2 linked regions of the Homo sapiens genome follow. The protein of the gene in region 2 interacts with the protein of the main gene of each other region in a biochemical or structural test. Each region holds a gene or a part of one and is shown on either strand. Other genes may lie near its edges.

What was found.
Region 1: of the proteins of ASB2 (region 2) and FLNB, one has a biochemical effect on the other in vitro, tested with the Homo sapiens proteins (one study listed by BioGRID).

What each region holds. Positions count from the first base shown.
Region 1 is NC_000003.12:57,999,105-58,016,263, reverse strand, and holds the start of FLNB (filamin-B), read right to left. Parts: upstream 7,843-17,159; 5' UTR 7,700-7,842; coding exon 7,408-7,699; intron 1-7,407. UniProt on the Homo sapiens protein: Connects cell membrane constituents to the actin cytoskeleton. May promote orthogonal branching of actin filaments and links actin filaments to membrane glycoproteins. Anchors various transmembrane proteins to the actin cytoskeleton.
Region 2 is NC_000014.9:93,938,571-93,946,728, forward strand, and holds part of ASB2 (ankyrin repeat and SOCS box protein 2), read right to left. Parts: intron 1,103-8,158; coding exon 538-1,102; intron 1-537. UniProt on the Homo sapiens protein: Substrate-recognition component of a SCF-like ECS (Elongin-Cullin-SOCS-box protein) E3 ubiquitin-protein ligase complex which mediates the ubiquitination and subsequent proteasomal degradation of target proteins.

The sequences.
Region 1 (17,159 bases), on a different chromosome or scaffold from region 2:
GACCAACATGGTGAAACACCATATCTACTAAAAATACAAAATTAGCCAGGTGTGCACATGCCTATAATTCCAGCTACTTGGGAGGCTCAGGCAGGAGAATCTCTTGAACCCGGGAGATGGAGGCTGCAGTGAGCCGAGATCATGCCACTGTACTGCACTCCAGCCTAGGAAACAAGATTGAAACTCCAACTCAAAAAAAAAAACAAACAAACAAACTCAAGGAGCATACCCCATAGGCAGCCTCCAGTTTCAGAAAGCCCTTGGTAAACCAGCCCTGCCCACCCCTCCACTGCCCCTCTGACCTGAGCATCAAGACCTCTAAACTGACACACTCGTCTGCTCCTGTGTAAATGTCTGTTTGCCTGCCTAATTCTAGTCACGCTTTAGGTCTTAGCTGAAAGGTCCCTTCCTCCAGGGAACCTTCTAGATTACCCATACCCAGCCTAGGGGCAGGTGCTCCTCCTTTTCAGAGGGCTTGGCACCTAGATCCTTGCTACTTACAGCACGGTGCACAGACAGCAGGATCTGAAGCTGACTGGAAACGCAGAATCCCAGCCTACACCCCAGCACCTACTCAATCAGACCTGCATTTTTAACAAAGTCCCCAGGTGATGAGCATGGGCCTGAAGGTTTGAGCAGCTCTCCTCTGCATGGCTCTCCCTGCTTGCTTGTCTCTTCTCCTCTGAGCAGTATCTGAGGCAAGCAAAGGACATGATCCTCTCATTCCTGTTGTCCTAGCACCCAGCACAGGGCCTGGTTCAGAGATGGGCTTTCATATATTTGTTGAATGAGGAAAGGAAGAAAGGATCTTGGGAGACATCTTCATCAGACGTTCTGAACTTGGAGAAAGGGAACAGCTAACACACCAGATGACAGCAATAGGATTCCAAAAATATCTGGACTGGCCAGAGAATAGACAGAAGACAAGACAAAGTCCTGGACTTGGGTCCAAAAGCACAATATTCATAGTGATAATGACAACACTGTGCTATAACTTAACCTCATCAAATATAATGCTCCCAGCAACTCTAAGATAGCAACTATTTTGCTCTTGCATTTTATAGACAGGGAAGCAGGCACAGAAAGGTTAAAGCAGTGGACTAGAGTTGCACAGCTGGTATCAGGCAGAGTGCGGATTAGAATCCAGACAGTCTAGCTTCAGACCGAGGCCCTGAATCACTAGGCTACATCCAGTTTTGCCTAGGATATGCTACCTGGAAACTGATGTAGCAAAGTTGGCTGGGTCCGGTGGCTCACGCCTGTAATCCCAGCACTTTGGGAGGCCGAGGCAGGTGGATCACGAGGTTGGGAGTTCGAGACCAGCCTGACCAACAAGGTGAAACCCCATCTCTACTAAAAATACAAAAATTAGCCAGACATAGTGGCGCACGCCTGTAATCCCAGCTACTCAGGAGGCTGAGGCAGGAGAATTGCTTGACCCCGGGAGACAGAGGTTGCAGTGAGCCGAGATCACGCCACTGCACTCCAACCTGGGCGACAGAGCAAGACTCCATCTCAAAAAAAAAGAAAAAGAAAACGCAAGGTGACTGGCACCCTGACCATGGAGCTACTGGAGGCAGGGCCTAAAGGCTCCAGGCCCTGGGTATCTGCTCCCCTAAGGAGCAGGGCAGCCATCCTCAACTAAGCCAGCAGCCCACTCCATGGTACCTGCCTCACAGCACAAAACCAGGACCCAAGAGACACAATTTGGCTCCAAATCAAAGCCCTCCTTTAGCTCAGACTCTCCAAGAACGAAGGCGGCTGCCGACTGGCATGCTGGCTCCGCCGTTGCTGGGAGAACTCCACAGAGGCCCAACCACCATCTGGAAGTGATTTGGCCCAGAGATTCCTGAAAGGGGTGGGAGGCTGGAATGACCAGACGCCTGGAGCTCCCTGTCCAGCTTGGAAACAAAGCTGGTGTGAATGGGCCCTGGAGGCAGCCATAACATAGCAGGGGGCAGCCCCTTTCAAGGAGGTGACACCCTCTAGGCAGTCCATAGCCGTATTTTAGCAAGTAGGATCAACCTTAGCCAACCAAGCTGTTCTCCCCAGAGCGCGCTGATTTCAAATGCCCTTTCAGTGTGCAAACCTTTCCGGCATGACTTTTGAGATTATTAAACAGTGCCTTATTTAATTAACAGGCATTCACAGAGCACTTACTATGTACCATAAACTGTGCCAAGCACTTTAAAAATTATTAACTTGTTTAATCTTTATAACAGCCTTTTAAGAAGGTAGTTATTATCCCCATTTTAGTGATAAGGAAACCAAGGCACAGAAGTTTCTAATAGCTACTTAGTGGCAAGTGGGATTTGAACCAAGAATCCTTGCTCTTAACTACTACACAAGTGACATTGAATGCTAATGTGCCACCTTGTACATGGCCCACAACTTGTTATTAATAATTCTGACAAAGCATGCTACTTTGCTACTTTTTTTTGAGATGGAGTTTTGCTCCTGTTGCCCAAGCTGGAGTGCAATGGCATGATCTCAGCTCAACACAGCCTCTGCCCTTGGATTCAAGCTATTGTCCTGCCTCAGCCTCCCACGTAGCTGGGATTACAGGCATGCACCACCACGGCCATCTAATTTTGTATTTTTAGTAGAGATGGGGTTTCTCCATGTTGGTCAGGCTGGTCTCAAACTCCAGACCTCAGGTGATCCACCCACCTTGGCCTCCCAGGGTGCTGGGATTACAGGCATGAGCCACCACGTCCGGCCAACTTTGCTACTTTTTAAGCACTCTCTGTACTACCCAAAAGACATGCTGGCATCTGCTAGACATGCAAGAAAGAGCAGAACTTAAGGTTATTTGGAAATTATTTTGGTAGTAGTAGCACAAAAGGGAGAGGAAGGAAAAGGAGCTGACTGGACCAGTGACCCACCACCCTGGAAGCTGCCTAGTGACCCGAAGTCTTGGGAACACGCACCCTGCCTGCTCTGGCGCTGGCCTGGTTTAAGTCAGTCAAGTAAACTTTAGGGTTAGACCACATCCTCTGAAAAGGAAACAATTCCTTTCTCTAAAGGCCCAAAACAAAACACACCACCCAAACTTCTAGGCCTTGATCATCATTCTTGGGCTGAGAGACCCCTTTTCCTCCCAGCTGGCTGGACTGCCCCATGTCAGAAAGGTTTTTGGAAAAACAAGTAAATAAAACTGCCAACTCCTGGCAAACAGCTGGAATTAAAGACACTGAGTCCTCACTATGAACTGCCCATCACATAACAAGAAACGTAAGGAAATTTTCAACTTTTGGATGGCGCCTAGGGGCCTACCTTACAATGAACCACAAATGTGAATCAATAGCCAGGGTTGTCTTTCAGTGAATTCTAGGCAGAAAAGCCAGAGTCCTCTGGCAGCTGTTGAAACACCACCTATCTCAGAGCTGGAGGCATGTACACAATTCTAATGACTCCACAACTGTCTGGTCTTATCCAAAGCATACAAAACCCTGTATTCATTCAATGATACCTTCCCTGACGATGGAATAAAACATCATCCATTGGGTAGTAGGAAATCTCAACCAACCAACCAAAACACAATGAGGAAAACACAAGAGGCAAACTGATCCCACTTAATTCCCGGCTGACTCTCAACTTGTGAGACCTTCATCACAGCCCAGAGGATTCATCCTGCCAATCATGGAAGGCCCTGACATCCCTATTTTGTCCAAGGTCAGAGGTTCAGAGTGTGGGTATCCAGCCACCACCCTAACACCTAAGACTTGCAAACCTAGTGTTGCAGGGACCCTCTGATGTGGAGAGAAAAGCTGTATTTTACTCATCTCTGAAACTGGAAGGCAAGTCAGTTAAGGCTCCAATTCAACAGCTGGGCAGACCTGGGTTTCAGACACCATTTACTAGCTAGCTGGGTCACCTCCACAAGTGGCTTCACTCCTGTTTCCCATCTTTAAATAAAGATAATAATACTAACCATGGCAAGAGTATGATCAACCAAACAGAAACAAACAACCAGGCTGTTCTCCCCTAATTTTGAACGTCCCTTCGGTGTGCAAACCATTCGGGCATGACTTTTTTTTTTTTTTTTTTTTTTGAGTCAGAGTCTCGCTCTCCCAGGCTGGAGTGCAGTTACACAAAGACCTCGGCTCACTGCAACCTCCACCTCCCGGGTTCAAGCAATTCTCCTGCCTCAGCCTCCCGAGTAGCTGGGACTACAGGTGTGCACCACCATGCCCAGCTAATTTTTGTATTTTTAGTAGAGCTAGGGTTTCACCATGTTGTCCAGGCTGGTCTCGAACTCCTGACCTCAGGTGATCCACCCACCTTGGCCTCCTAAAGTGCTGGGATTACAGGCGTGAGCCACGGCATCCAGCCCTGGCATTACTTTTGAGATAATTATTAGACAGCACCTTATTTAATTAACAGGCGCCATTTTCTAAGCAACACATGCCCAGGACAGTGTTAAGCCCTGAACTCTCTAAGTGACTTGCAGAAGCAGATCATTAGAGATAGGGCAGTAGTTGCTGTCAATCAATGATTAGCATGAAAATTCAATGGGGTGATCAACAGAACACACTTAACACCCAGTAGGTGCCCCCAAATTGAAGCTAGTGTCATTGTCAGCACAATGTAACACAACCTAAGCAGTGAATATATGAACCTTAGTCCAAGCTGGAGGTAACTTTGCCTTGAAGGATGAAGGACCATTACCCACAACAGCCTCAAGAGCTTAGGGAAGAAGCCTCCTGCTTTATCCCCACAGCAGTCCTGGCACTTGCCAGGGCTCTCTGTGGTCTCCAGAGGCTGGAAAACCTGTTTGTTGCAAGATCTCTCGGGAGAGCAATTAGGCAGCCAATGATACAAGTCATAAATGTGGTCACACCCTTTAACCCAGGAATGTCACTCTGGGGAATATGATCCAAGAAATCATTAAAAAGGAAAAAAATAGAATGCAAGTTGTGGTAGGAACAGGAAGAAGCTGCCAACAGCCCACAGGCCCAGCACAGAGGAAGGGAAGCTAACTAACCCTGGAACGTCGGGACAATGGGAGTAGCTAGGGCCTGAGTGGATTCGAAAATAAAAGGAGGACCGGGCTGGGCGCGGTGGCTCAGGGCTGTAACCCCCGCACTTGGGAGGCCGAGGCGGGCATATCATGAGGTCAAGAGTTCGAGACCAGCCTGGCCAACATGGTGAAACCCCATCTCTACTAAGAATACAAAAATTAGCCGGGCGTGGTGGCATGTGCCTGTAATTCTAGCTACTCAGGAGGCTGAGGCAGAAGAATCGCTTGAACCCGGGAGGTGGAGGTTGCAGTGAGCAGAGATGGCACCATTGTACTCCAGCCTGGAGACAGAGCAAGGCTCCATCTCCAGGCGGGGCGGTGGTGGGGAGGGGGAGCAGGGAATCAGGAGAACCATGTAAAAAAATGTAGACAAAATCTAGAATGAGACCCACAGCCCCGGGCACTGATGAGAGACAGTGCTGGAAGTAGCTGCTGCCTCTGTAAACAGTGGGTAGATCAGGCAGTCTGTGATTTGCTAGTGCTGCGGTTTGGTTTGGTTTTGTTGTTGTTTTAGAGATTTCATGTCGTATTTGGATACTTCTGGTTTACTTTAAGTTTCTTTATTCAGTTAATTAAATAAATACACATTTTTAAAACAAAGAACAGATCCAAATTGAGCCCAGCTGGGCCTTGGGATTCTTCAGAGGGGAGGCTGGTTTCTGAATGGTAAAGAATTCCAGGAGATTCTGAGGTTCTCCCTCCCCAGTACAGGAGATGGACCCCAGAAAGAAGACAACAGCGTGCCATGCAGATTCTTCTGCAGGGAAGCCACCCTTGGGGAGGGGGAGGGCTGCTGGAGATCAGCTGGGTGGTGCGGCTGCCATCTGGGCCCAGGAAGCAGGAAGCAGCCTTACCTGCCAGGACAGGTGTGGGGGAAGGGAAGGGTGAGGCCCTAAGGCCCAGGGGAGGCTCAGCCTAGAGGGAATCCCTTTTCCACTGGAGAAAGTCCTGGCAGCCACACCCATCTCCCTTTCTTCCTGTCACTAGGGTCACTATAGTGACCTGGTTTCCTCAGGAAGAGACCCAAATCACAGGCCAGGGCCAGTCCCTGGTTCTCCTTAGGAAGAGATCCAGACCCAGAACCCTCCTCTGCCCCAACCCACACCCACCCACCCACATACACACACACACATACACACACCCATACACACGTGTAGGTGGATACACATTCTCTGCATACATTCCGTGTACATGCAAACTCTTTGCATATGCACATGCTATACACACATGCTATGTGTGTACACACGTTCTCTGCACAAACGCCCACATGCACACACACATCACAGCCCCTACCATCACAGCCCACACTATCAGTAGCCTTGTGGCCCTCTGGGAAGCCTCCAACTATCTCAGACCACAAGGGAGACTTCATCCTTATTCTTCCTCCCCAGACCAGAAGGCCCAGTCCAGCAAGAGACACCAATTCCCTCCCTCCTTTCAGGAAGACCCTGGTGTAGGTTTGGGAGAGGAGAGGAAAACAAAGCCTCCTTCTAACTGTTGCCCACTTCCTTCAGTTCTCAGCTGGGCCCTACTTGCTGACCTTGGACAGGTCAATTAACCCTCCGGACCCCCTTATCTGTAAAATGGGTCTAGCCTCACCCCAGATGGCAGGATGCGTAGGGACGGAGATAACTTAGAAGGCTGACGGTACACAGTGGACGCTAGTTGGGCTCCCTACAAGACAGCAATTACTGTTACCACCACCATCTCTAAATTATAACTTCGGCAGCAAGGAGTGGGTTCAACCTGCGGCGCGCGGCCAGAGCTGAGCTGGGAGCAGAGAGAGCGAGGACACACACCCGCGCCTACCCTTGCAACCTCGGGGCCCACACCCATTCCAGCGACGGCAGGGGAAGGTACCAGGTCTCTGTCTCCACCTGGGCAGGGAGGCCCCAGGCGCAGAGAACGGTTCCTCCTCAGGTCTCACGGCCCGGCCTCCGAGCCAACGCCCATTCAGCTGCCTCTGAGAGCACCAACCTGGGCGCAGCAGGGAGAGCACTCCGCGGAGCATCTGACCCTAGGGCCCGCCCCCGGGGACAGCGAACGAGGGTTTCTAGTCCCCTAGCTCCCATAGGGGCGCCCCAGGTGTAGAGAAATGCAACAACTCCACCTCTCCTCCTGTGACCCCAGCCCAAACCCTCAACCCTTAGCCAGCCAAAGGTGCACTGCTGGGGCGGATGGCGGGGAGCGATCACAACAGGTCCCATCCCAGGGGAAGACACCGGGGAGGGGGTCTAGGCCCCCTATAACCCACCCCTGGGGACGACTCCCCCTTATCTCCGAGGTGGGGGCGCGCTGCGGGAAATCCTCGCCCTCCGCAGGGGTGCACGCGCGGGGGCGGGTCGGCACCACAGTGGGCGCCTGGGCCCGGCCAGAGAACTCACCGATGGACACGAGCTTGATGCTCTCACGGTCCAGGAACTCGAGCGCCACGGACACATTCTCGAGCTGCATCTGGCGAAAGGTGGGCCGCTGATGGTACTTGCGGTACATGCGCTTCTGGCTGAGCACCTCGAGCAGCGCGATGAGCCGCAGCCCGTCGCTCAGGTCGGTCTGCAGGTTGCCGATGCGTTTGTTCACGCACTTGAGGTGCTCGTTGCACCAGCGTGTGAACGTGTTCTGCTGGATCTTCTTCCAAGGCGCGTCCTCAGCTAGATCCTTCTCGGTTACCGGCATCCTGGTGGCGGGGAGAGCGCAATGCGCAACGAGCTGCCGGGGACTGGTGTTTGGAGGCCCAAGGGCCGAAGGAGCGAGAACCGAAGCGGAGCGGGAGCGGGGTTCGAACTTGCTGCTACCGGAGCCACGGCCGGTGCTGCTCTGCGGCCGCCCGCCCCTGGCCGCGCGAGGCGCCTGGCCCCGCGCCTGCGCGCTGAGCCGCCCCGCCCCCAAGCCCCGCCCCGTCCCGACCCTCCCGCGGGAGTTCCTGGGCCACGCTCGCCTCCTGCCGCCTGCCGCAGGCACTGCGCCCCACTGCGTCCTGGGACCCGCGCTCGAAGCCCACCACCCCAGCAGGATGTAGGGCTGCCTGAATCACCCGGTCAGCCCCGGGGTGGGGGGACCCGCGGGGGCTGGGAGCCGGACAGAATGGGTCGGGCCTCAGTGGGACTTGCGGGAGGGGCGCGCGGGGCGGAGGTCTTCATCCACATATAGATTGAATAAAATTCAGTAAGGGCTTTTATTGAGCTCCGCCTGTGTACCAGCCATTCTTCTCAGAGCCTGCTAACCAGTAGTAAATCAGACAAACGTATTGCACAACCTCAAGGAGTTCACACAGCCTAATGGAAGAGAAAAGTGTAATTCCACCATAACCAACAGCCCAGTAGTGGTGGTAAAAATGAACAATAAGGCTTGTTGCATGTCTTAGTTTCCAGTTACTGCTGTAACAAGTTACCAAAACTTAGTGTCTTTGAAAACACACACCCACAAATGTATTATCCTTCAGTTCTGTAGGTTCGATGGCCCACACAGGTCTTGCTGAGCTAAAAACAAAGTGTTGGCAGGATGCATTCCCTTCTGGAGGCTGTAGGGAAGAATCTGTTTCCTTGTGTTTTCTAACTTCCAGAAGCTGCCTGCGCGCCTGACTCCTGCCCCTTTTCTCTGTGAAAGCCTGCAATGGGCTGGGCACAATGGCTCACACCTGTAATCCCAGCACTTTGGGAGGCCAAGGTGGGTGGATCACCTGAGGTCAGGAGTTCGAGACCAGCCTGGCCAACATGGTAAAACCCCATCTCTACTTAAAATACAAAAATTAGCCAGGTGTGGTGGCGCGTACCTGTAATCCCAGCTACTGGGAAGGCTGAGATAGGAGAATCGCTTGAACCTGGGAGGCAGAGGTTACAGTGAGCTGAGATGGTGCCATTGCACTCCAGCCTGGGCGACAGAGCAAAACTCCGTCTCAAAAAAAAAAAAAAAAAAAAAAAAAACAGAAAAGCAAGCCTGCAATGTCAGGTGGAGTCTCTCAGACCTCAGACAGTCCTCTCTCCATAGGCACATCTTCCTTTTTTTTTTTTTTCCTGCGATGGAGTCTTACTCCGTTGCCCAGGCTAGAGTCCAGTGGTGCAATCTCGGCTCACTGCAACCTCCTCCTCCTGGGTTCAAGCAATTCTCTTGCCTCAACCTCCTGAGTGGCTGGGATTACAGGCACCCGCCACCACGCTCCGCTAATTTTTGTATTTTTAATAGAGACGGGCTTTCACCATGTTGGCCAGGCTGGTCTTGAACTCCTGACCTCAAGCGATCCACCAGCCTCTGCCTCCCAAAGTGATGGGATTACAGGCATGAGCCACCTTGCCCAGCCTTTTTTTTGTCTCACTCCGTCTCCCAAACTGGAGTGCTATGACTCAATCTCGGCTCCCTGCAGCTTCAACCTCCCCACACCTGGCCCTTTTAAGGACTCTTAAGATGACATTGGGCCAGCTGGTTAGTCCAACATGATCTCCCTATTTTAAAATCAGCCGATTAAGAACCCTAATCCTGTTTGCAACCTTAATTCCCCTTTGCCATTTAAGGGAATGTTCACAGGTCCTGAGAGTTAGGATGTGAACGTCTTTGGGGGCTATTACTCTGCCTACCACAGCATACATTGAGCACTTACTCTGTACTCATCCAGGTTCTGTGCTAGGTTCTGAGATATGGCAGAGTCTCAGGCCAGCCCTCTGTTGATAAAAGCCTGAATAATTACAACAGCAAGCATTGAATGAACACCTGCTGTTCCTCTGTGCCAAGCACAGTGCAAAGCAATTTCTTTCAAGTCGGGTGCAGTGGCTCACACCTGTAATCCCAGCACCTTGGGAGGCCAAGGTGGGCAGATCACCTGAGGTCAGGAGTTCGAGACCAGCCTGACCAACATGAAAAAACCCTAGCTCTACTAAAAATACAAAAAATTAGCTGGGCGTGGTGGCGCATGCCTGTAATCCCAGCTACTTGGGAGGCTGAGGCAGGAGAATCGCTTGAACCCAGGAGGCAGAGGTTGTGGTGAGCCAAGATTGCACTCCAGCCTGGGCAATAACAGTGAAACTCTGTCTCAAAAAAAAAAAAAGAAGAAATAACCGAGTGGTTGAGCGGCTTGCCCAGGCCACACAGCACAGTTAGAACCATAATGCAAGTCTGTAAGAGAGGCACAGGGTGCCCTGATACCAGAGAAGGGGCTCCTAACCCGGTTTGGGAGAGGAGTTCAGAGCAGGCAAGCTTCTGAGGAAGAGAGGTTGACCAGGACAGAGGGCAAGGGCTTGCAACTTTGAGGGTTGCTCAAAAGAGGCCAGCCAGTTTATGGGTAGAACCATTCTGTAACAGGTTATTTGCATACAATCAATGCCAGAGTGCTTTGTTCAGACAGATGAACTGACTCACTGGAAATGGTCACAACAGCCTGGGGGAGAGAATATATTACCCGGCCCTGGCTCACAATAGGGACTCAGTAACTACACTCATGTGTTGCTTAACAACAGGAATGCTAGAGGATTTTGTCATGATAGGAACACCAGAGAGTGTGTTCACACAGACCTAGATGGTACAGGCGACCACACATCCAGGTTAGAGGGGATCACCTGTTGCCCCTGGGCTACAAACCTGTACAGCAAGTTACTATATTGATACTGTAGGCAATTGTTACAATAAGTATTTGTGAATCTAAACATTAAAAGGGTATAATAAAAATACGATATAAAAGATAAAATTGGGCGGGGCGTGGTGGCTCACACCTGTAATCCCAGCTCTTTGGGAGGCCAAGGCGGGTGGATCACTTGAGATCAGGAGTTCGAGACCAGCCTGACCAACATGGCAAAACTCGGTCTCTACTAAAAATACAAAAATTAGCCAGGCATGGTGGCAGGCGCCTGTAATCCCAGCTACTCGGGAGGCTTGGGTAGGAGAATTGCTTGAACCCAGGAGGCAGAGGTTACAGTGAGCCAAGATCGCACCACTGCGCTCCAGCCTGGAAGACAGAGAGAGACTCCATCTCAAAAATTAACTAACTAAATAAATAAATAAAAAGATAAAAATAGTCTACCTGTATGGGCACTTGCCATGAATGGAGCTTGCAGCACTGGAATTTGCTCTGGGTGAGTCAGTGAGTGAGTGGTACGTGACTGTGAAGGCCTAGGACATTACTGTGCACTACTGTAGACTTTATAAACACTGTACACTGAGGCTATACTAAGTTTATTTTTTTAATCTTTTTCTTCTGCAATAAGAAATTAACCTTAGAGGCCGGGCACGGTGGCTCACCCCTGTAATCCCAGCACTTTAGGAGGCTGAGGCGGGTGGATCACGAGGTCAAGAGATCAAGACCATCCTGGCCAACGTGGTGAAACCCTGTCTCTACTGAAAATACAAAAACTAGCTGGGTGGGGTGGCACGCACCTGTAGTCCCAGCTACTCGGAAGGCTGAGGCAGGAGAGTTGCTTGAATCCGGGAGGTGGAGGTTACAGTGAGCCGAGATCGCGCCACTGCACTCCAACCTGCCAATAGAGTGAGACTCCGTCTCAAAAAAAAAAAAAAAAGAAAAAAGAAAAATAAAAAAGAAATTAACCTTAGCTTACTGTAATTTTTTAATTTTATATATTTTTTAATTCTTTGACTTTTTGGCTTTTGTAATAACAGCTTAAAACACAAACACATTATAAGCTGTACAAAAATTCTTTCTTTCTTTAAATCCTTATTCTGTAAGCTTTTTTCTGTATTTAAAACTTTTTATTGGCCAGGCACGGTGGGTTACGCCTCTAATCCCAGCACTTTGGGAGGCTGAGGTAGGCGGATCACCTGAGGTCAGGAGTTCGAGACCAGCCTGGCCAACACGGTGGAACCCCATCTCTACAAAAATACAAAAAAAATTAGTGGGGCATGATGGCGAGTGCCTGTAATCTCAGCTACTTGGGAGGCTGAGGCGGGAGAATGGTTTGAACCCAGGAGGCAGAGGTTGCAGTGAGCTAAGATGGTGCCGTTGCACTCCAGCCTGGGTGACAGAGCAAGACTCTGTCTAAAAAAAAAAAAAAAATATATATATATATATATATATATATACACACACACACATACATACATATATAAAACATACAATTATGTACAGTATATAATATTTGATAATAAACAAGTATGTTGGCTGGGCACAGTGGCTCACGCTTGTAATCCCAGCACTTTGGGAGGTCGAGGTGCACAGATCACCTGAGGCCAGGAGTTCGAGATCAGCCTGGTCCAACACGGTGAAATCCCATCTCTACTAAAAATTTTTAAAATTTTATTATCGACCTCCCTGGGCTCAGGTTATCTTCCCACTTCAGCCTCCTGAGTAGCTGGGACTATAGGGGCGCACCACCATGCCCAGCTAATTTTTGTATTTTTTGTAGAGACAGGGTTTCGCCATGTTGCCCAGGCTGGTCTAAAATTCCTGGGCTCAAGCAATCCTCCTGCCTCAGCCTCCCAAAGTGCTGGGATTACAGGCGTGAGCCACCACACCCAGGCAATAAAAAGTGTTTGTTTGTTTGTTTGTTTGTTTGTTTTATTTTTTTGAGATGGAGTTTCACTCTTGTTGCCCAGGCTGGAGTGCAGTGGTGCGATCTCAGCTCACTGCAACTTGTGGAGGTGGCCCTCCACAAGTGTGAGCCACCGCCCCCGGCCTGTGCTATATTTTTACTGGACTGCAGCACAGAAGGTTATGATTACACCAGCATCACCACAAACACAACAGTAATGTGTTGTGCTGTCTGTTGTTGACAGAAATGTCATTATGTACACATGACTATATTTGAATGCTTGTTCCCCTCATTAGTGATTAAGTGATAAGATTTGCTATTGGTCAGCTGGTAATGACTGGACAAAGCTGGACTTGAACCTGGGTCTAACTCCAAAGGCTGTATTTTGCCCAAGGGTCCCCGTGGTCTCCCCAAGCCTGGGACATGGTTTTGTCCATTCCGTGGGCCCCTGAGCAGCAGATTCACTCCAGGCAGAGTTGGTAACCTCTTCCTCCCCCACGACCAAGGCCCTCAGTTCCTCATACTTTCCTCCATTCGCACTCATCCATCAAAACTTATCAGCCAGTGTGACTCCCAGGGCCCTCCTCCCTGCTAGGTGAAATGAGCAAATGTGATCAACTCCGCCCAACAGCCACTAATGTGCTAAGGCTCCCCTCTAAGTGTCATTCAAAAAGTAAAAAGGTGCCAGGCACGGTGGCTCACACCTGTAATCCCAGCACTTTGCGAGGCCAAGGCAGGTGGATCACCTGAGGTCAGGAGTTCGAGACCAGCCTGGCCGACATGGTGAAATCCCATCTCTACTAAAAATACAAAAATTAGCCGGGCATGGTGGTGCATGCCTGTAACCCCAGCTACTCCGGAGACTGAGGCAGGAGAATCACTTGAACCCAGGAGGCTGTGGTTGCGGTGAGCCGAGACTGCGCCATCGCACCCTGGGTGGCAGAGCAAGACTCCATCTCAAAAAAAGAAAAAAAAAGTAAAAAGAAACAGGTAAAATTAATGACAATTATATACTTAACCCGATAGTAGGGTGACCAAATGACCAGGTTTGCCCAGGACTAAGGTATCTCCTGGGATGCAGACCTATCAGTGTTGCAACCAGTAAAGTCCCTGACAAACCAGAACAAGCTGATCGCCCTACCCAGAAGATCTAAAATGCTATCATTTCAAAATGCAATTGATATTTTAAAGTATTTTTATATTTTTACTTTGTTTGGGTACTGTCTTTGAAATCCAATATGTATTTCATACTTAAAAAACATCTCAGCTTAGACTGGCACATTTCAAGTGCTCAACAGCCACCTTTGGCTACTGGTGGCTTTCCTGTGGGTCAGTGCAGGAGTAGAGATAGGCTTGATGTTGAAATAAACCAGTGAATAAGTTGGCAACCCATAGTGGTCTCACCAAGATCCTAACCTTGGGACCTCCATTTCTTTCTTTCTTTTTTTTCTTTTATTTATTTATTTATTTTTTAATCTGTTTTTTTAAAACAGAATTTCACTCTTTTTGCCCAGGCTGGAGTGCAATGGCATGATCTCAGCTCACCTCCGCCTTCCAGGTTCAAGCAATTCTGCCTCAGGCCCCCCAAGTAGCTGGAATTACAGGTATGTGCCACCACACCGAGTTACTTTTTTTTTTTTTTTTTGAGACGGAATCTCTCTCAGTCCCCTAGGCTGCAGTGCAGTGGCATGATCTCCGCTCACTGCAACCACTGTCTCCTGGGTTCAAGCGATTATCCTGTCTCAGCCTCCCGAGTAGCTGGGATTACAGGCACCTGCCATCATGCCCGGCTAATTTTTGTATTTTAGTAGAGACAGGGTTTCACCCTGTTGGCTAGGCTGGTCTTGAACTCCTGACCTCACATGATCTGCCCTCCTCAGCCTACCAAAGTGCTAAGATTACAGGCATGAGCCACCGCGCCCAGCCTAATTTTGTATTTTTGGTAGAGACGGGGTTTCACCATGTTGGTCAGGCTGGTCTCGAACTCCTAACCTCAGGTGATCTACCTGCCTCGGCCTCCCAAAGTGCTGGGATTACAGGCATGAGCCACTGCACCTGGCATATTTATTTATTTATTATTTATTTTTAAGTTGCAGGGTACATATGCAGATGTGCAGGTTTGTTACATAGGTAAACATGTGCCATGATGGTTTGCTGCACCTATCAACCCATCACCTAGGTATTAAGCCCAGTATGCATTAGTTATTTTTCCTAATGCTTGGACTTCCATTTCTATATGTGAAACCCACTTGCACAATTCAGGAATCCCAGCTCTGTGAGAGGGGTCCCAGGTGAACCTTCATTCTGTGGTTTCTCAGTGTCCTGGGGTCCACTATTGTAGTCATTATATTAATGTCAGGATATTTGTAATAGTAAAAGTAGTGGTGGCCATAGTAATAGAAGCTTCCATTTCTGGAGTACTGATGTTATCTCATTTAGTCTTCACAAGAACCCTAGGAGGTGTTGTTATTATCCCCATTTTACAGGTAAGGCAACTGAGGCTGAAAGGGGTAGTCATATGCCTGAGATCACAGAGTGGCAGAGCGTGGATACTAAAAAAGTCCCCCGGGAACAGTTATGATTAACTGCAAGGACCTGGAGCTACCCAGAGTTTGTTTCCTTACAGGTAACCGCCATTGTTAACATGTCTTCCAGGAGTTTCTGATAAATGAGAAACTGGGGGCATAGCACTTAGCAAATAAGTATCAACTGAGGGAGTTAATACTGCTATTATCATGATCATCACTGCACCTTCATGACTGAACATCCAAAGAATGCAGGCTGAAGGTTCCAGATTTAGAAGCCCGCTTTCCAAAGGAAATAGAGATAGAGAGTCAGGACTTGCAAAATGAATTCATGTCCTCCCCAGGGTGGGGCCCCAGGAGTCCTCACCCCAGGGCGGGGGCCTTCTCAGTTGTAATTTTACACCAATGTCCACACCCTGCCACCAAGAAAGAGAAGCAAAATATAAAGAAGCATATTTCCTTTGCCTCCACCCTGAGAGGAAGGAGGAGCTGGTTTCTCAACAGCTCCCTAGACAGGTGGGTGTGCTCACCCCCCAGCCCCAGTCTGGCTGTGAAGGTCCTGAGACCATCTGGGTAGGGTGCTGGGAGGAAGCCCACTCAGGTGGGAAGAAGAGGAGGAGTGCTGAGAGGGCAGGCCTTCCCCACCAGGTAGCAAAAGATAATGGCATTTTGCAGTTCCAGATTCAAAATGGCGCCACCAGCCAGCCTTGACCTGAGATAAGGCAGGGGCTGCTGGCAGGCAGGCTGCTTGAAGAAGGCATGGGAGTCCGGCCGGGGGGCTCATCCTTGCAATCCCAGCCATTCGGGAGGCTGAGGTGGAAGGATTTCTTGAGCGCAGGAGTTGGAGACCAGCCTGGGCAACATAGTGAGACCCTGACTCAAAAAATAAAAAAGAAGGCACAGGCCTTCACTCCAACCCTCCCACTCTTAATCCAGCAGCCAAGGTGGAGATCAGAAGGGGCAGGGCAGAGCAATTTTCATGACAGCAATTCTCTACTGTCTGTTTATTCACACAGTGGGCTAAGTGATTGTATCTATAGTCTCTCCTTTGATCCTCACAGATGTAAGAAATGCCACACTAAGTATCTTAACATGGGTTATCTTTTTTCTTTTCTTTTTTCTTTTTTTTTTTTTTTTTTTTTTTGGAGACAGGGTCTCACTCCGTCACCAAGGCAGATTGCGAAGGTGTCATGGCAGCTCACTGCAGCCTGGACCTCCCAGGCTTAAGCGATCCTTCCACCTCAGCCTTGTGAGTAGCTGGGACCACAGGTGCACATCACCACCACGCCCAAATATTTGTATTTTTTGTAGAGATAGGGGTCTTTCCATGTTGCTCAGGCTGGTCTCAAACTCCTGGACTCAAGTGATCTGCCTGCCTCTGCCTCCCAATGTGTTGGGATTACATACGTGAGCCACCGCATCCTTTTTTAAATCTCAAGAATACTGTGTGTGTTACTGAGTGTGATACAATAGTCCCCCCTTATCTGTGACACACATGTTCTAAGACCTCCAGTGAATGCGTGAGGCTGCCCACAGTGCTGAATCCTATATTTCCCATGCTTTTTCAATCTGATAACTAAGAGGACCATGAGCAGGTGGCGTAGACAGCATGTGTACACACTGGACAAAGGGATGATTCACGTCCCAGGCAGGACAGGGTGGGACAGGGTGAGATTTTATCACGCTACTCAGAACGGTGTGCAATGTAAAACATGAATTCTTTCTGGAATTTTCCATGTTTTTTTTATTGTAGTTAGCTGTAGCAAACTGAAACCATGGAGAGTGAAACTGTGGACAAAGGAGAACTACTGTACTAACATTATCATCCCTGTAGCACAAGTTGGGAAACTGAGGCTCAAAGAGAAAGTCCCCTATGCAAGCTCCTGTGGGTATTAAGTGTCAGAATCTGAATTTGAACCCTAGTCTAACCGACTCTAGAAGCCAGCTCTGCATCTTGGAGATCTCTTCAATCCTTCAGAACACACAGCCCTAACTGCCCAAAGCACAGCTTACCTTTCTGTGGTAAGAGAATGAAGGCGGCAGCCACCCTTCACTCCACATCTGCGTGTTGTTCCTCAGCAGAGGTGGGGAATCAGGGCCTGCTAAGGGCCTCAACTTCCTCCCACTGGCCCTTCCCAGCCC
Region 2 (8,158 bases):
GTGTCCTGCCTCTGGGTCGCTGGCTTTCTGCTTCTGACCTGACCCTACACCAGCCTGCTCTTGACATGCCTTTCCGGATCGTGCTTGTTTCACATCGCATTCCAGGTGTAGGTTTGCTGGAGGTGACGAGCCTCTTAGTTTGGCAGAGTTCTCCGCTCCATCATTGGTTCCTTAAATTCCCCAACGCAGTGGACCACAAGAAGGATTTCACCGTTCCAATGCACCACTAAGTTCTGCGGCCTCTTAAGTGTGCTAACCACCGGTTCCGCTGCCTCCAAAGTGAGCTAACCCCTAGTTCCCTCCAAAGCTCCCTCCAAAGCGCCCTAAGCGCTAACCCACGCTACCCAGGACGCAGGTTAACCACCGTGCTCTGCTGCCTCCAAAGCTGGCCCCACTTCCCCCGAAGGGTGTTAATCACTAGTCCACGCTGCTCCCAAGGAGCGCGAACCACCCGGCCCCGCCCGCCTCCCATGCGCGCGCGCGTCCCTGGGCCACACCCAAAAGGCGTGCTCCCCACCGCCAGCGTGCGCTGCCCACCTGCACCACGCTGGGCTCCTTGTCGGCCGCGGGCGCGTCGTTGAACCTGCTGGAGGGCTGCGGGGCCGGCGGGTGCGGGCCGTTGCCGTAGAGGCATGAGAAGCAGGGCTCGCCGTCGCAGCCCAGGTCCATGAGGAACTTGAGCAGCGACAGGCACTTCATGGCGAACATGATGGTGGCGGGGAAGGCGGTGGGGTGCGTGGCGATATAGGCGTCGATGTTCGCGCCGTGGTCCAGCAGCAGCTGCATTGTGCGCAGGCAGCCGTGGCGGATGGCCACGAGCAAGGGGCTGATGACGTCGCGGTTGGGGTCGGCGCCGTGTTGCAGCAGCAGCTCGGTGGCGTACACGTTGTTGTTGACCACCGCGAAGTACAGCGCGGAGCTGCGCCGGTCTTCGTAGAGGCGCGCGCGCTCGGGGGCCAGCGGCGTGTTCACGTCGAAGCGCGCGCTCAGCAGCGCCTCCAGCACCTCGTCGTGGTTGCGCTCGGCCGCCAGGTGCAGCGGACTGACGCCGCTACGGCGTATGCGCGTGCGGCTGGTCACCGGCAGCAGCATCTGCACGATCCTGCCGGGTCGAGGGGCGGGCGCGGGTGAGGGGAGGGTCGGGGTGTGGACGGGTAGGGCCGGCCCCGCCAGCAGGAGAGCTCGGGCGCCAGGCTCGGCTGGTCGCCCTGACCGCGGGCTGCGACGCGGATCCCACCGGCAGGGGGCGCCGCGGGTCAACCATTCTCACCCCACTGGGCAGGGTGGGTCGGCTGCCGTCTCCGCTTTACAGATAAGGAAACTGAAGCTCAGAGAGCTTCAGCCACCCTCCCAAAGTCACATAGCCAGTAAGGGGCAGAGCTGGGCTTCAGACCCAGAACCCTTGGCCTCCGAAGTCTGAGTTCTTAAAAACCTCAGCCAGACTGCACTAGGGTTTCAAGAAGCTCCCACTAATTTATTTCAGGCTAAGCGCTGTTGCCCATTGCCAGCTCAGTTATTTGGAGGAATTGCCTGGAAGGCCCCCAAACCCAATGAATGTCCAACCTCCTCCCTGCAGGAGGCAGTAGAGCCTAGTGGCGAAGTTTGGAGCCAGACCCTGCTCTCTCTGGGGGAGGACGGACAGGGACAGCCAGATCCCAGAGCCCACCGTGTGCCAGGAGGCTCCTAAAGGCTTTACAAGTGCGATTGGGTTTAATCTTTACAATAACCCCTAAAGCAAGGCTCATCATTCCCATTTTGCAGATGAGAAGAGTCAAGACTCTGAGAGATTAAGGGGCTTGCCCAGTCATACAGTCAGAATAGGGGAACCAGGGTGTGTGCCCTCCTCTGACTCCAGGGCTGAGCTGTCCCTATCTTGCTGTCCTGGGACCCCAGTGGAGCCACGAGATCCTGAGGACAAAAGGGGACAAATGTGTTTGGCCCCAACTAATTTGGCCCCAACTACTACTGCCCCAGGCCCCAACCAGCCCATTGTGACCATGAGGTCACTTACACTCCTCTCCTGTCAGTCTCAACGCCTCCTCCCCGAAGGCTGACGCTAGCTTCTCCCAGTCTCTCTGCCTCACCTTCTGGGTGTGGAGAACTTGGTCAGCCACTGCGGAAGCCTGAGCTCCCTGCAACCACCAGTTCCTCTCTTCCCTAAAACACGAGCACTGATCTCAGCACTTTACCTCTATTCATCTGTGAAATCCTCCCAGTAGCCCTCTGAAGTGAGTACTGTAATATCCTCATTTCAGAGATGAGGAGACATAAGCCCAGAGAAGGTATGTGACTCCTCCAAGGATACACAGCCAGTAAGTGATGGAGCCAGGATTTGAACCCAGGCAGTCTGACCCCAAAGCTACACTCTTAACAATGCCCCTACCTCTTGTGTAGCAGTCAGGGTGACAGTTAATATATCCCGGGGTTTTGCAGTCTTCATAATGTGTTAACTTGCCTGCCCATTTTACCTTCACTTCAGCCCTGGGTGGGAGTGGCCGGAGCAGGCCTGTGGCCTTCTTTTTAACAGATGTGGCTCAGAGAGCCGAAGTGACTAATCAGGGGTCATAAGACAATTCTGGGGGCTCAACCCCAGGACTCTTTACCCCTTCTCTTGGCTCTCTTCTCCTACAGCCCTGCCACCTGCAAGAACAAGCTCCTGCACCAATATGATTCCAGACCCTAATCCATCCAATCCCTGCTGACAGGTGACCTCACAGCCTCCTGTGGGACTCCAAGGAGGTGGCCATTACAGGGGGTGGGGCGGTGGGGGAAGGGGAGAGAAGCAGGTGCCACCAGGCCCATTCCCACGCCTCTGGCCTCCTGGCACACAGGCTTCCTGGAAATCTGATGCCAGCGACCTCCTGCTGGGATCTCAGTGGAAAGTATTATGATTGTTAGTGATGCTGTGTTTGGCTAAAATCTGACTCTAAAACCTCAAAAGGAAATTCACACACCCGGGGGGCTAATTGCCTCCTAATTTCTATTTGTGTAGGCACAGGAGGCCTGACTTTGCTCTGCAGAGGTGCTGGTCAAAGGCAGGCCTGGGCCTCACCCTGGATGGCGGCCACGGCCAACAAATGCTCTGCTAACAGCTGTAACGTGCCCAAGAACGGGAAAGAACAGTGAGAGGGGCTGCCCCGGGGCCGCTGGACAGATGGGGCTGGTATCTCTGGCAGGTCACAGCTGGTCTCCGGCAGTTCTCCACGAACCAAGGGAAAGTGGCAGAAATGTGGGAACTTGAGCATTGTCTCAGTTATGTGGTGAATCATCTTACTGCGGCAGGACTCTGCCAATCAGAAAGTGAATGTGTAACGCCGGACAGGCTCTGGAGATCAGTGCGTCCAGCTTTCCCATTTTACACAGAGTAAACCTGAAGCCCAGGCTTGGGGTGGGGAACAGAGTGAGGTTGGACAGAAGGTGGGTGGTGCACAAGAGCAAAATACAGGTCTCTGGATGTCCAGGGCCAAGCCTTCTACGATGCCCCTCTCCTCCCAACTATGGGAGCGGCCACGTTGGTAGCCCCACTGCACATCATCACTCCTCTTCCCAGCCCATTTTGTGGGGCAGAGGACAGGAGGACAAGGGGGTGACCCCACCAAACAGTCTGACTCTTCCCACTTCTCCCACAGGCACGTTTTGGATTCTCAGAGTATAATTGCTCAAGCGGCACCTCATGAAGAGGAACAAAGGTGACTATTGTCTGATAGAGCCGTAGGTGTCTGGAAGAATGGCCCCCTACCCCTTCCTTGTCCCCTCCCCAATGCAGAGGCCACAACTACCAGCTTAGCCTTTCCTGTCTGGGCCCTGAGACCGGAGCAGATCCAGCTCAGGGTCATTCCAGGAAGACCCAGTGCAGCAGTGTGGCAGGTGCTGAGCTGTCTCTGACCTTGGACCTCATTCCGAATCACTGGGCTCTTGTCTTGTTCCTAGGACCCACCAGTATCTGAAGCCTGACATCCTTGCCCCAGGTCTGGGCTCCCACTCCAGGATTCTAGTTTCCTCAGAGCAGCAGCCTTGCCATACCACCTGGCCCTGGCTCTGATGTCCTTCCTGAATCTAGCCCAACAGCAGGGGAATGGGCAGAGAGCTTTGAGCCAACGCAAGCTGTCCTTAGCTAGAGAGGGGCCCAGCATGGGCAGTGGGGAAACTGGGAGGCTCAGAGTCAGGGGTACATGGGTTACACACCAGCTCTACCCTTCAGCACTGGGCCAGCGCAAGCATGTCACTTAACCTCTCTGAACCGCACCTAAAGCAGAGGGGTAATTAATTGTAATAATAGTGATGATGATGATGATGATGATGATGGTGATAGCTATAGCTACCCTTTATTGAGCTCCAGTGGGTTGCTGTGAGCACTTTACCCCTTACCTTCTTAAGTCATAATTGTGCTAATATTGCTGAGCGCTTACTGTGTGCCAGGTACCATTTAAAGTGGTCCTCACATTTGTTTACTTCATTTAATCCTAGCATGACCCTCAGAGCTAAGAACTTAATCTCATTTACTCATTTACTCATAACAATCCGGCAAGGTAGGACTGCTTACAACCCCAGGTCCAGGTTACAAAGCACAATGTAATGATCTTTCACCAAGGCTGCTTCTGAGTATAAATGAGATCTTTCCCATGAATCTGATTGGCCCGTAGTCGGCAGTGAATGAACAATGCTCTTGGTATCTTGACCACCACCACAACTGCAGCCTACTGCCCCTGCTACCCTAAACACAGAGGCATTCTGGATCACCAGGTCACTGTGCTTTGACCCTTGTCAGTGTTCAATGTAAATTTGGATGGAGGGCCGGGCGCGGTGGCTCACGCCTGTAATCGGAGCACTTTGGGAGGCTGAGGCGGGTGGATCAGTTGAGCTCAGGAGTTCGAGACCAGCCCGGGCAACATGATGAAACCCGGTCTCTACTAAAATACAAAAATTAGCCAGGCACAGTGGTGGACACCTGTAATCCCAGCTACTTGGGAGGCTGAGGAAGGAGAATCACTTGAACCCAGGAGGCAGAGGTTGCAGCGAGCCAAGATTGTGCCACTGCACTCCAGCTTGGGTGACAGAGAGTCGGTCTCAAAAACAAACAAACAACAACAAAAACATTGGCTGGAGGATTGACATGGGAACCAGTTGCCCACAGACGGCTCCATTGCCAACACTTCTGAGCTTCACTGTGCCACCCTGACTTGTTTTCTATGAAGTCTTGAGCTCTGAGCCTCAGTTTCTCTTTTAACTAATGGGGATATTAACTTGCTTGTCAGTGTGCTTTATAAGCTGCTTTTTAATTTAATGTGTTAAGTGTTCTCTATTTTGCCTTATTCTAGGAAGAATTTCAAGTGGCTTGCAAAGATTGATAAAATACAGCAAAAGTGTTATATGTTGGAACTAAAAGAGAAGGAATATTTAAAAACGAGGGAGGCAGAAGTAAGGCCCAGAATGCAAGTCTGTGTTTTCTGTTGGCCACAGAAGAGGCTCTAAGATCCTGATTCTCTACCCAGGCTGCACAGTAAAATCTCCCGGGCAGCTCTTAGACACCTTGAAGCCTCAGCCACGGCCCAGACCAGCGGCAGCGCCATCTCGTCAGGTGGGGCCCAGGCATCAGGGTTTCTGGTGCAGCCAAGGTTGGACACTACTGTTTTGGGTGCTATTCTTGGGGCATCTGCTCTGCGCTAACTCACACAGTTTCTTAATACGTCTATCTTTGGTGTTGATCTTTGATTTCATACGGTGGCTTTGCTAAACTGGAAATGAACAACAGGAAAATGCGTGTCTTGGAGGTGACTGCGACATCGGGACTTTAGGGCTCCTTTCTCAGCACACCCGCATGTCACCCCTTGCGGTTAAGTGTGCTGACGAGAAGACACCATCTGGCAAACAGCCTTCGGCTCCTGGTGCTGCCTTCCATGCCTGGGACGGATGGCCAGGGTGTGTTGGCAGGTGGCAGAGTGTGGAATGCCTATGGAATGTCACATCAAATCCCCGAGCAGAGGGCCTTTAATGCTGTATGCCCAGGGAGGGAGTGATGAGCTCGGGGCTTGCTGGCCATGGGCTCTGCCTGGTGGCAGAAGCTGCTGGGAACCAGGCTTTAACCCTTTGTTGCTTAGCCCTAAAAAGTGGCCCAGGCCCCTCTGAGCCTTGGGGGACAGAGGGAAATGGGGCCCGGGGGTGGAGGTTGAATAACCAGGGAATTCGCCCTGGGAATCCACGTGAATCCAAGGTAGATGAGTTTACAGGAACATCAGCCATGGACACAGTGTTCCAGGCAGGACGCGCCTTACTCTCTGATCATCCGCAAGGCCACCTAGTGCCCCTTCAGCTTCTCCTCCAGCTGGGGCCAGACTGCCAACACCTCTGGGTTCACTTGAAGGCAGCCCAGATGAAGGTCCCAGCCCTGCCGCTATCTCAAAAATCACTTCCATATCTGACCTTGGCTTCCTTCTCTGTAAAACCAGGGCCTGAATTAGATCAATGGTCCCTGCAGCTATAGACAGGCTGTATCTGATTTGCTCAGGGAGCTTTTCAAAGAGACAGTGGGGCTCCTTCTCTCCTGGAGATTCTGATTCACCGGATCTGATATGGCATTTTAAAAATAGCCCAGAGGGACATGGATGTGCAGGCTAGAATTGGGGGGCAGTGGGCCAGGAGATTTCCAAAGTGCACCCACTTCCCGTGTGTTCACTCTGGATCTCTCTGGGGTCAGGCTCAAGGTAAACTGTGTTTGCCCAACTCTGACTGATGCCCGATGATTTGTGGAACTCAAGAGAAAGGAGCCGTCTTGTCCATGCCCACTGCCTGGCTTGAGCTGCTGTCTGAACCGCTCAATCATGGAATGCACTCTCCCTAAGTAAGAGTGGGTGAGCATAGGACGCCTGAGCACACACTGGGTGCAGGCGCTCTGCTAGGTGCTTTTTTCCATTCTATATCCGTACGTATCCATTTTACTGGTCCTCCGACAACCCCATGAGGCGGGTGTAACCATTTCCCATTTTATAAATGAGGAAAATGAGGCTCAGCAAGGTTAAGCAACTTTCCCAATGGCCTCAGCAGGGATTCACACCCAGATCTGTCAGCCTTGTGGACAGCTGTGCTGTCCAGAAAAGGCTGGGTCTCCTCTGTGTATGTACTGGGGGGTGTGGGGAGTGGGGAGGGCATCTTTGGGTGGTCTTGGTGCAGGCAACCTGCACAGAAGGGGCTGGAGCTTTAAGGGGCGGCTCTGAAGCCTTGAGTCTTCATTTCAGTCTTTGGAATGTCACTTTGACCCCATTTCCCTCTGCCTTAGTGAAGACAACAAACATGCCCCAATACACGCAGTCTGTGCTTCTCACTCTCCTGCCTGTCTGGAAGATTCGGGTGTGTTTCCCCAAGTGTCATCAGGGTACATGAGATGGGATTTTAAATGAAATGTTTTTAAAATTGATTGTAAATGGATAACATACTAGTGTGATAAATGTTTCCTCTTCAAAATAAATTCATTGTAAGTAAAAACATTATTTAAAGGAAAAATTACTAAACGATGAGAGTATAGATATTTAAAATCAGGAAGAAAATCTGTGAATGGACAGTTTGGGAAGCACTGTCCAGCAAAAAGGGTCAGATGCTGGGGTTTAAGTCCTAGCCCTGGGGACGGGGCTTTCAAGGGGCAAATCTCTTAACTACCAGAGTCTTCGTTTCCTGTCCTGTAAAATGAAAATCCGGGTTGACCCGCATACCCGCAGCACAGTGTGAGGCTCACATGGGAGGCAGATGAGTCACACTCTGGAAATGACCAAGCCCTGTCCATCCTTCAAGGGCAGCTGGAGCTTCACCTCTGCGGCCCAGGCTTCCCCATGTAGCAGTGCTGCTGGGAATGCTTAAAAACTGGCTCAAGCAAGGGCAGAGAAGGGGGAAAGGACTCTGGTTTGTAGCATTTGCCTATTTCCCCATGTAAATATTCCCCCATGGCCAATTTTAAGCTATCAATGTGAGGTCAGTAAACACAGAGTTGGGAAGAGGTGTGCAGTCGGTTCCTGAGAACAGGCACGAGCTGGCTCTAGCACACCTCTGCCTCTAGCCCCGGCTCGTCTGTCTCCACAGGAGCCATGCAGCTCTTCGGCATGCTCTTTCATGATGTCATGAATTCACATGTCTGTGCTTCTTCCCTTCCTCCAGATTGCTCCTTGGGAAC